Linked DNA regions of Homo sapiens. The protein of the gene in region 2 interacts with the protein of the main gene of each other region in a pairwise test. Each region holds a gene or a part of one and is shown on either strand. Other genes may lie near its edges.

What was found. The genes of interacting proteins can lie anywhere in the genome.
Region 1: the proteins of RSKR (region 2) and TRAPPC12 interact in binary tests that used the Homo sapiens proteins (3 or more experiments, as listed by UniProt).

Annotation. Positions count from the first base shown.
Region 1 is NC_000002.12:3,382,664-3,389,699, reverse strand, and holds part of TRAPPC12 (trafficking protein particle complex subunit 12), read right to left. Parts: intron 2,081-7,036; 5' UTR 2,077-2,080; coding exon 1,030-2,076; intron 15-1,029; exon of another isoform or gene 1-14. UniProt on the Homo sapiens protein: Component of the TRAPP complex, which is involved in endoplasmic reticulum to Golgi apparatus trafficking at a very early stage.
Region 2 is NC_000017.11:28,607,444-28,611,202, forward strand, and holds the end of RSKR (ribosomal protein S6 kinase-related protein), read right to left. Parts: coding exon 3,700-3,759; intron 3,257-3,699; coding exon 3,035-3,256; 3' UTR 520-3,034; downstream 1-519.

The DNA.
Region 1 (7,036 bases), on a different chromosome or scaffold from region 2:
AGCAATAACACTGTAACCCTCCATCCCCCACCCCCTTCGGCTGCCCCACTCAACGGGAAGCAGTGGTCTGTTAATGCGCCCGTTTAGAGCCGTTAAGATGCCCGTTAGTCCGGCAGCAGATGCGGGTCGAAAAGAGCTGTGTGCACGCTGTAACATCCCCTCTCGGGCTTCGGGGTCGCGGTTGTTGCTCTTCGGGCGCCACGGTGTTCCCCTCGCCTGGACGCAGGAGTCCACTGTGGGAGTCACTTGCCACACGCCTGGTCCAGCTACAAGCCCCGTGTGAAGCCTGCTCCTATGCTGGCGGTTGGAGCAGCCCCCGGACCCCTACACTCAGTTGCTCGCACAACCCACCTGCTGGGGGCTGAGAGCACAGTCACCGAGGCCACGGGATATGCCAAAGCGCAAGCCAGGTGCGGCCCGGCAGGCCTAGTGGGCGAACCTGGGCCGAGAGAGGCCTGGGCAGGGGCATCGCCGACCACGGAGGTCTCCAGCTGGCAAAGCGGCACCGAAAAAAACCCTGCATCAATTGTCTTTCATTAGTAGTGAGATCGAACATTTGTATGTTACCATTTAGCTTAACATTTATATATTTCTGTGATTTGTTACTTTTTGGGTCACGCGTATTTTTCTTATTCAACCTATAAAAATTCTACATCGGGCACATTATATGTTACAGGAATATATTTTTCCATATTTTAAAGAAAGAAATGGATTTATTATTAACTGGAGTTCAAATGTCAAATGGATTACAGGACATGGAGAACTGACTGAGAGAATTACGGTAGAACTGTCTGCCTTGGTGGTATTTATTTCTACCTCTCTGAGTAGCAGTCCATTAAATATGTTCTGTTGGGGAAACCAACAGATCCCTAATTACCCAGGGACAGAGGAACACAGGCGCTCACAATGGGATGTTAGGAATTACTGAAAACAAGGCCTTCTCCTTCTCCATCCCTAAAGGGGCACTGTGCGTATCTCACAGACGCAGAGAGGAGGCACGGGCTGCGGAGGTGGGAGACCCGGGCTCACCTGGATGTTGTCGAACCTGAGGCCCGGCATGGTGAGGTTCTCCTTGTCCACGAACACGGCGCCGCGCTGCTGGGTGGCCACGGCCCGCAGGACTCCACGCGTAGCCTCGCCGGGAAGCCAGGCGTCGTTCCTCCGGTCCATCTCGCTCATGCTCAGGGCGGTGGCAAAGGGGTCGTCACTCCCTGCAAACACTGCCTGGATGTGCGCGAAAGGCTCTGGCGACGCCGGGGGCGCAGCTGCCTGGGGCCCTCGCATGGCCACGGGTTCGGGGCGCCCCTCGGTCCCGGGCACAGCGAGGGGAGGCGGGCTGGCGGGGGCCGGGGAGCCCGCGCCGGGATTGCTGACGGAAATGAAGGCGGAGGTAGTAAAGGAGTCGAAGAAGTCCGAGGCCAAGGAGTGGCTGGCGGCCGTGTCTCCGAAGAACGTGCTGAGGCTGGGGCTGGGCTGCACGACCTGGGGCGGTGTCCTGGCCGAGGCCTCGCTGGCGCCACCGAAGCTGGGCGACTTCACCATCTGCGGCTCGAAGCCGTCCCCGGAGGCTGGGGGCGCGCGCTGGCTGAAGATGGTGCACACCGGGACCGGCTCCGCAACGGGAGGCTCCTGCTCCGGGCGCGCGGCTTCGCTGCCTGGGACCTCGCGGGCCGCGTCCTGCCTCGGGGCCCCTCCGCTACTGGGTGCCGCGTCCTCGGGGGCACAGTCGCCGTCGGCCTCGCCGCTGGGACTCGGGGTGCCCGCGGGCTCCGGGCCTGGGTCGCCTTCCCCTCCGGGCTCAGCTTCGTCCCGCACTCGGCCCAGGTCGCCCGCGTCGCCCTCGCTGTTGGGGGAGTCAGAGATGAGGACGCTCTCCATCATGTGTTCGTTCAGCTTGTCCGCGAGAGGACTCGAGCCTTCCGATGCGGTCTCGTTCTCTTCGGATCCAAACTCATCTCCGCCAAGATCGATGGTTTCCTCCTGGAAGAGCAACCCCTGCTCCTCCGGAGGCGCGAGCTGAGGGGGGTGCGGGGCCTCCGGGGCCGGGGTCTCCTCGCCGCCGCCAGCGTCCTCCATGACCCTGAAAGCAAAGACAGAGAGAAGGCCCCTGAGCGTGATCTTCATTCACCTCAACCGAAAAATGAGTATTGCTTATAGATTCAAATGACGCAGACTTCCATTTCTCCAGCTTCTTATCCATGTGCTTTTGATTATGGTAAAATACACATAAAATTGACCACCTTAAGTTCAGTAGTGTTAAGTACATCTACATTTCTGTGCAACCAATCTCCAGAACACTTTTTATCTTGCAAAACTAAAATTCCATCCCCATTAAACATTCCCCCGTATACCCATCTCCCCCGCCTAGAGCATCCACCATTCTACTATAAAATAAGTGGAATCACCCGATAACTGTCTTCCTGTGACTGGCTGATTTTACTCAGTATAAAGTCCTCAAGGGCTATTTATGCTACAGCTTGGTCAGAGTTTCCTTCCTTTTTATGGATGAAAAATATTCCATGGTATGCATACACTACATTTTGTTTATCCAGCTATCTGTTGTTGAACACGTGGGTTGCTCCCATCTTTTAGCTATTGTGGATGCTGCTGCAATGAACGTGGCTGTACAAACAGCTCTTTGAGACCCTGCTTTCAATCATTTTGGGTAAATACCTAGAAGGAACTGCTGGATTATATGGTAATTCTATTTTTAATTTTTTTGAGGCACCAAAAAACTGTTTTTCATAGTGGCTGAACCGTTTGTCATTCCCACCAACAGTGCACAAGCCTTGGAATTCACATCCTTGCCAACACTTGTTATTTTGTTTTTATTTCATAGTAGCCATTCCAGTAGGTGTGAGGTTCCAGCCATATAAACACTACTTCATTCTGAGAGTCAGCTAAGTCCCTCCTCTTCCATGAAGCCCTCCCAAGACTCTTCAATTTGTAATAGTCTCTTGACTTCCCCATGCCGTCCGCCCCTACCCCCGCCCCACGCCCCAGCTCATATTATCTGCCTGACTCTGGAAATCTGATACAGTGCGAATGACATGAAAAATTTAAACAGTAAGAAAACAGCACACTCACTAAGCACTGATGGCTGAAGCTGACAACACAACTAGCTAACATTTATCCGCACATACTATGCCCCTGGCTATATATACATATGCCTGTGTGATTCTCAGAACACCCCTCGAGACAGCTGCTATCACTGTCTTCGTTTCGCAGATGAGGACACTGAGGCCTTGGGAGGCTATGTAAGCCGAAATCACACCGCTAGTGAGTGGGGAAACCAGGACCAGCCAAAGAATGAGACAAAGAGCTCAAACTGTAAAAAAGTATTTGTTCTTTTTCTTGAAAAACTTTTACTTTATGTAGTTTTACTCTCATAGTGAACAAATTCAAGTTAAGGAAATCTAAGAGACTATGATAAAAGATAAGGGATTTTTTTCAGAATAAAACAACACGTACCTTTTTTACTTAAAAAATGACACTTAGCTGATCTCTAGATAAGACTACCCTTTTCTCACTGTCAACACTTCCATCATAGTATTCCCAATGAGTCAGCCTTCCCAAAACATTATTTTAAAGTACATAATCCAAGTTATACATTTTGAAGAAGTTTCCGGTTCAGCCTGGTCAGCTACTAATTCCCTTATACATTCATCCAATAATTGTTAAGTATAAATGAATAAAAAATCCAATGAAAAGGAGTAAAACGTTTTTTTTCCTGCCATGTTTCACCGGGAGCCCGAAGAACAAATTGCCCTAGAACCCCAAAGGGGGAGCCCCCTGTGCATGGTAAGGCTGCTCCTTCGGGTCCTTCCTGTGCAGGGATAGAGGCCGGGCACAAGGAGCAAACAGGCAGCATGAGGCAGTGCCCCCTCTGAAGTCTCCCAGCAGGACTTGAAGGCACTAGCGTGGTCTGCGTATTTTATTTTAGAAATAAGAATTGATTTCGATATAAGCTAATGATGAGAGAAAGGGATCTTCCCTCCGTCTCATCTACCCTCAGCCCTAACAAAATTCTAGGTTCTAAAGCTAATTCTGATTCAATCTCACAGATTTTAAAAGTTTTATTGCCTTTGTGAAGAAACTTTTTAAAGAAACAATTCTTACTATTGTGAAGATGAAGCTGCTTTAAACCTGTAAGATTTAGGGAAATCTGTTTATCAGAGATATAATAACAAAAAACATCGCCTAGAAAAACCACCAAAATAATAAAAATTAAGGTAAAATGCTTCTAAATTATAAAGCTTAAAAACTTTATAAATTGTAAATTAAGGAGAACTGATAAAATGGGAATGTCCAAAATTTTCATTAATACCTGCAAACCACTTTTGAGAAGAGAAGAAAATAAAAAAATAAATTTTATTCTTAAGTAAATACCAAAGTAATAAAAAGCCCTAATAATTTAGGGCAAGGATGATCACTTTTGCTTTCACACAAATAAAATCTAGATGCAGGAAAATGCTTGTAAGTAAGGATCTGAGGGTTTCTTCTCTAGAAAATCAAGAGGAATGCTCAAATAAAAATGATATAAAACGTGATTTAGATGATGCTTTTATGAATGGGAAGACATACATATATTATAAAGCTACATCTATATAAATTATATACATAAGATTTTGTGAGAATGGACATATAATTTGTAGCAAAATAGCTTCTTCACTTCAAGGGTTTCCTTACTCTAATCTTATTCCAATGTAAGGTTCAAATGCAAAGCAGACACTAGTAATAACCATGTATATATGACGAGATAGTTCTATAACCATAAAAAAAGTATAACCAGTAGTTAAGTCTTCCTACAAAGAAAATATAGGGTCCAGAGGGTTTACCAGTGAATTCTACCAAAGATTCCGTACAGATAATTCCTACAGTACAAAAATTCTTGCAGAGAAGAAAAAAGACACATGACCCAATTCACTTTATAAGGCTAATATAACCTTGAGACCAAAATTTGACAAGGCCATACTAAAAGGGAAGCTATCATCTCACTCATGAACACACATGCAAAAATCTTGAAATATTAGCTAACTGAATCAGCAATGTATTTATTTTCTACCAAACTCAGGTAATCCCAGAAATGTACTGTTGGTTTAATGCGATAGATTAAATAAAAGTACATGACTATCTCAATAGATGCACAAGAAAGTATCTAATAAAATTCAGCATCTGCTCAAGATAAAACCTGTCAGCAAACTAGCAACAGAAAGTAACTTCCTTAATGCAATCAAAGGTATCTACCAAAAACCTAAAGGAAACCTCAAATTAACAGTGAAACGTTTAAAGCATTCTCTTTAAAAGTAGAAAAAAGATAAAGATGTCCTCTTCAACATTTTTATGCTGCCTAATACTGGAGTCCTCGGGCAGGATTAAGGCAAGAAAAATAACTAAAAGCTACAATAAAAACTGAAAAGAAAAAAATACAAACCTTCATTCTTCGTGTATGATTATTTATGTAGAATACATCAAAAATCTATGGTATAAAGACTGAAATATTGGGCCAGGCACGGTGGTTCAGGCCTGTAATCCTAGCAATTTGGGAGGCCGAGGAGGGTGGATCACCTGAGGTCAGAAGTTCAAGACCAGCCTGGTCAACATGGTGAAACACTGTCTCTACTAAATATACAAAAATTAGCCAGGTGTGGTGGAGGGCGCCTGTAATCCCAGCTACTTGGGATACTGAGGCAGGAAAATCACTTGAACCCAGGAGGCGGAGGTTGCAGTGAGCCGAGATCGCACCACTGTGCTCCAGCCTGGGCAACAGCAGCGAAACTTCATCTCAAAAAAAAAAAAAAAAAAAAAAAAAAAAAAAAAAAAAAAAACAAGACTGAACTATCACAAGGGAATATGTAGCACACATCAAAGGAAGAGACGATTTTCCTTGAGTGATGTGTAGACAAATCATGCAGCTGGGAAAAAATAAACTTGGAATCTTGTCTCACCACAGACACAGTATCAATCTCAGGGACGTTAAAAACTTAACTGTGAAGGCCGGGTGCGGTGGCTCACGCCTGTAATCCCAGCACTTTCGGAGGCCGGGGCGGGCGTATCACGAGGTCAGGAGTTCAAGATGAGCCTGGCCGACATGGTAAAACCCCGTCTCTACTAAAAATACAAAAATTAGCCAGGTGTGGTGGCGGGCACCTGTAATCCCAGCTACTCTGCTACTCGGGAGGCTGAGGCAGGAGAATCGCTTGAACCCAGGAGGCAGAGGTTGTAGTGAGCCAAGATTGAGGCACGACATTCCAGCCTGGGTGACAGAGAAAGACTCCGTCTCGGGCGGGGCGGGGGTGGGGGATCAAAAATTAACTGTGAAAGGCAAAACTTCAAAACTTTCAGAAGAAAATATAAGAGAATATATTTTCAGAGTAGGCAAAGCCTCTTAAACTAGGCATAATCAGTACAAACCATAAAGGGAAAATGGATACATCTGCTATATTAAAATGGAAAGTTCTATCATTAAAAACCTAAAAAAAGTGAAACAAACAAATGTAACTGAGAAAGGATTAACACGAAGAATACATAAAGAATCCCTACAAATTAATAAAAGCACACTAAATGATCCATTAGAAAAATAAGCAACAGAGCTGAAAGAGGTATACCTTTGAACATCCATGTTGAGAAACCACTTGGTATTATCTAGTAAAGTTTAAAAAGCACATTATCTTATCACTTTGATAACTATACATCTTGATTTTTCCCAGAACAATTCAATTTTTCACCCATGGTTTAAGTTATTTCTATTATTTTATTAGTATTATTATTTTATGAGACATAGTCTGGCTCTGTCACCCTGGCGGGAGTGCAATGGGACGATGATGGCTTACTGCAGCCTCGATCTTCTGGGCTCAAGCCCATCCTCCTGCCTCAGCCTCTGGAGTAGCTGGGACTACAGGTGTGCACCACCACACTCAGCTATTTTTGTATTTTTTGTAGAGATGGGGACTCAATATGTTGGCCAGGCTGGTCTCAAACTTCTGAGCTCAAGTGATCCTCCTGCCTTGGCCTCCCAAAGTGCTGAGATTACAGG
Region 2 (3,759 bases):
CTTATTAAAGAAGATGAGAGCCTGGGCGTGGTGGCTCACGCCTGTAATCTCAGCACTTTGGGAGGCCAAGGCGGGTGGATCATCTGAGGTCAGGAGTTCCACACCAGCCTGGCCAACATGGCGAAACCCCGTCTCTACTCAAAATACAAAAATTAGCCGGGCGTGGTAGCATGCACCTGTAATCCCAGCTACCCACGAGGCTGAGGCAGGAGAATTGCTAGAACCTGGGAGGCAGAGGCTACAGTGAGCCGAGATTGCGCCACTGCACTCCAACCTGGGCAACAGAGCAAGACTCCATCCCCACCAAAAAAAAAAAAAAAAAAAAGACGATGAGATAGTTATTGGTGGATCCAGGCATCAGATCTCCTAAATTCCAAACAAATGCTCTTAACTACTATTTTGGAAACCATTAATTCCTATTTTTAGTATTCAGAGTTTTTATCCAGTGTGCAGTTCTGGTCATCACAATTTTTAAAAAGTAATAAAAGTGTCTAAAGAGAAACAAATGAGATAAAAGGATAAAGGATACATTGCCTTATTTATTTATATCCCAACCTTATTACAAAAAGGCTTACAAGATGCAGATATTATAGTAATATAAAACGATTAAAACTTAGAAAAATGAGAATAAGGAAAATAAAAGTAGAAAAGGAAGACAGAACCAAGAACATGACTAGCATACAAAATACATAAACACTTGCTGAAGGTAGACCACAAATTGGGCTCTAAATGGTCTAGTATCAGTACAAACAGAAAAATACAATCAGCTGAATATTTAGTGTCCTTAAGGTAAAAACCAAACAGCAATTCAGGAAAAGCATAACTGGGTCCAGAGAAAATTTCTCCCACGCATTCTTAAATAGAATATTATGAACTGTTACGATAAACACCCTTTACAGTATCCACAGCAATTAAATTTATTTTTTTCCTGAGACAAGATCTCACTCTGTTGCTCAGGCTGGATGCAGTGGCACGATCTTCACTCATTGCAACCTCCATCTCCTGGGTTCAAGCAATTCTTCCCCCTCAGCCTCCTGAGTAGCTGGGACTACAGTGTGTGCCCTCATGACCAGCTAATTTTTGTATTTTTTGGGGAGAAACGGGGTTTCACCATGTTGGCCAGGCTGGTCTCGAACTCCTGACCTCTGGTGATCCGCCCACCTCAGCCTCCCAAAGTGCTGGGATTACAAGTGTGAGCCACCACACCTGGCGAGCAATTAAATTTCATAGAGATTTTCATATGGATTACCAAAGTCCAATCCAGAAAAAGCAATTCTGCAGAGGCCAATAAAATGCCAGCTATGCATGGGGAAATCTGGCTCAATCTAGAGACAAAATTAATAAATAGAACTAAAGAGTACTCTCCAGACTGTCTTTTGTCTAGAGAGATTAGATGTAACTAAATAATATGGTCTAGATTAAAACTTACTTTCCCTTCAAGTCTCAGGACAAAAATGAAAATTGTGAGAAATTAGTTTAAGAAAAATGAAAAGAAGTCATAAAGGCCAAAACTGTATACAAATTTAAGGTCCAGATGATTTTCCTTACTAAAGGAAAAGGTTATTGAGATATGTCTCTAACCTTAAATCTTTTTTTTTTTTTTTTTTTTTTTTTTTTGAGACAGAGTCTACCTCTGTCACCCAGGAGTTCAATGGCACAATCTTGGCTCACTGCAACCTTGGCCTCCAGGGTTCAAGCAGTTCTCCTGCTTCAGCCTTCTGAGTAGCTGGGACTACAGGTGTGCAACACCACACCCAGCTAATTTTTGTATTTTTTTAGTAGACACAAGGTTTCACCATGTTGGCCACGCTGGTCTCGAACTCTTGACCTCAACTGATCTGCCCACCTTGGCCTCCCAAATAACCTTAAATCTTAAGGTTGATGCATGCCTCTTAATCTCTTGGTTTGCCCATCAGAAACTGAATCATGGGCTCACTAGGAGAAATTGTCAGTTTAAAAATCCTATGCTTTTCAAAGAGGTTTTATTTTGGATAACTGTTGCAATTATAGACCTAGAGAAGACATTTAACCCACCCATGTTTCAGTTTCTATTTTCTTCCTCACTAGATTATTTTATTCACTTTTCAATTTTTAAAAATTAGATTTATTGCAGACTGGCCTCAAGCTCCCAGACTATATTTTTTAGCTGCATTATTTAGGGGTTGAAATGCCAGCTTTTGAGACTTTTGAAAAATTCACAGGCTGGGTGTGGAGGCTCATGCCTGTGAAGGTTGCAGTGAGCTGAGATCGTGCCACTGCACTCCAACCTGGGTGACGAGAGTGAGACCCTATCTCAAAAAAAAAAAAAAAAAAAAAAAAAAAGGGTCTGGTGCAGTGGCTCACACCTACCTGTAATTCCAGCACTTTGGGAGGCCAAGGCAGGCCGATCACTTGAGGTCAGGAGTTTGAGATCAGCCTGGCCAACATGGTGAACCCTGTCTCTACTAAAAAATACAAAAATTAGCTGGGCATAATGGTGTGCATTTGTAATCCCAGCTACTCGGGAGGCTGAGGCATGAAAATCACTTCAACCCAGGAGACGGAGGTTGCAGTGAGCTGAGAACGCACCACTGCACTCCAGCCTGGGCAACAGAGTGAGACTCTGTCTCAAAAAAAAAAAAAAAATTCATATTGCTTCTGACAAGCCTATTAAACACATCAATAGCACCCTGGGAGCCCATGAAGTATTATTATTGCTCAAGAAAGGAAACATGGCAGAGAAACAAGCAGAAGCAGCTCTGGCTGACAGCCTGAGGGTAAAGAGCACTGGAGAAGTAAAGAAAAGGAAAAGGTCACCACCCTGATCTGACATGTTGAATTGAGAGGTAGGTTGTATGATAGGGAAGGAATAGGGCCAGCTGTGGCTGCCAGTAGCAGAATGTCCAGGTTGGAACTCTGGTCTAAAGCCTAGGAGAGCAGAACGGTAAGAGGCTACAAAATAAAAACAAACTGGATTATCAAGGTGGTCATACTGAGTAGGCAGGGATGGAGATCTTCAGGCTCCCAGCCGGGCCCCAATTTACAGTAGAGAGGCTCAAGCAGGGATAGGGTAGAGCAAGAAGGACTCCAGATCACAGTCAAAGTCGTCAAAGGGCATGGTCTCCGCTGAACTGGGCTGGGTAGCTTGTGTCTCCGTGACAAAGTTCACTGGCTGCTTCTGTAGGAGCTCTGGGTCGAAGGCCACACCCCGAAAGAAAGGGTGGACCTGGAAGTGATGCAGATAACGTAGACGATGGAGGGGGTTCTGGCATAAGAGCTGAAGGAAAATAGAGCATGAAGGATGAGTGACTAGGACAGGACAGGCCTGAACAGAAAGGATGGAAAAGAAGAAAGAAGTTCATGGAGCTGTGGAGGGTAGGAATAAGAACCCTGAAGAGTAGATGATTTGTAAAAGAGGGAGAAATAGAGGCTAATTTGGGGCAAAGGTGGGAATAAGGAGCTGTGCTTGTGAGTTTTCAGATGAGTGTACAGTGTTCCACTCTCTCAGAAGGGACCTCTCTGTTCTAGATGGGGAGGAGATTTGGGGGACCAGGAACTTAGGAATGTGACTCAGTACAGCTTAGATGGCAAGTAGTTAGGTAGTTAAGTTGGAGCCCCCTCAAAAAAACTGATGAGAGGAATGGGGAAAAATCACTTTAATGAAGGCAGGAGAGCATTAATGGTTTCGTAGCCAAGAAGGAAAGCAGTGCTCATCCTTACCTCATGGAGCAGGAGTGAGAGGCCCTGGTTAAGAGAAGCTGGGATCTCAGAGTCACTGTG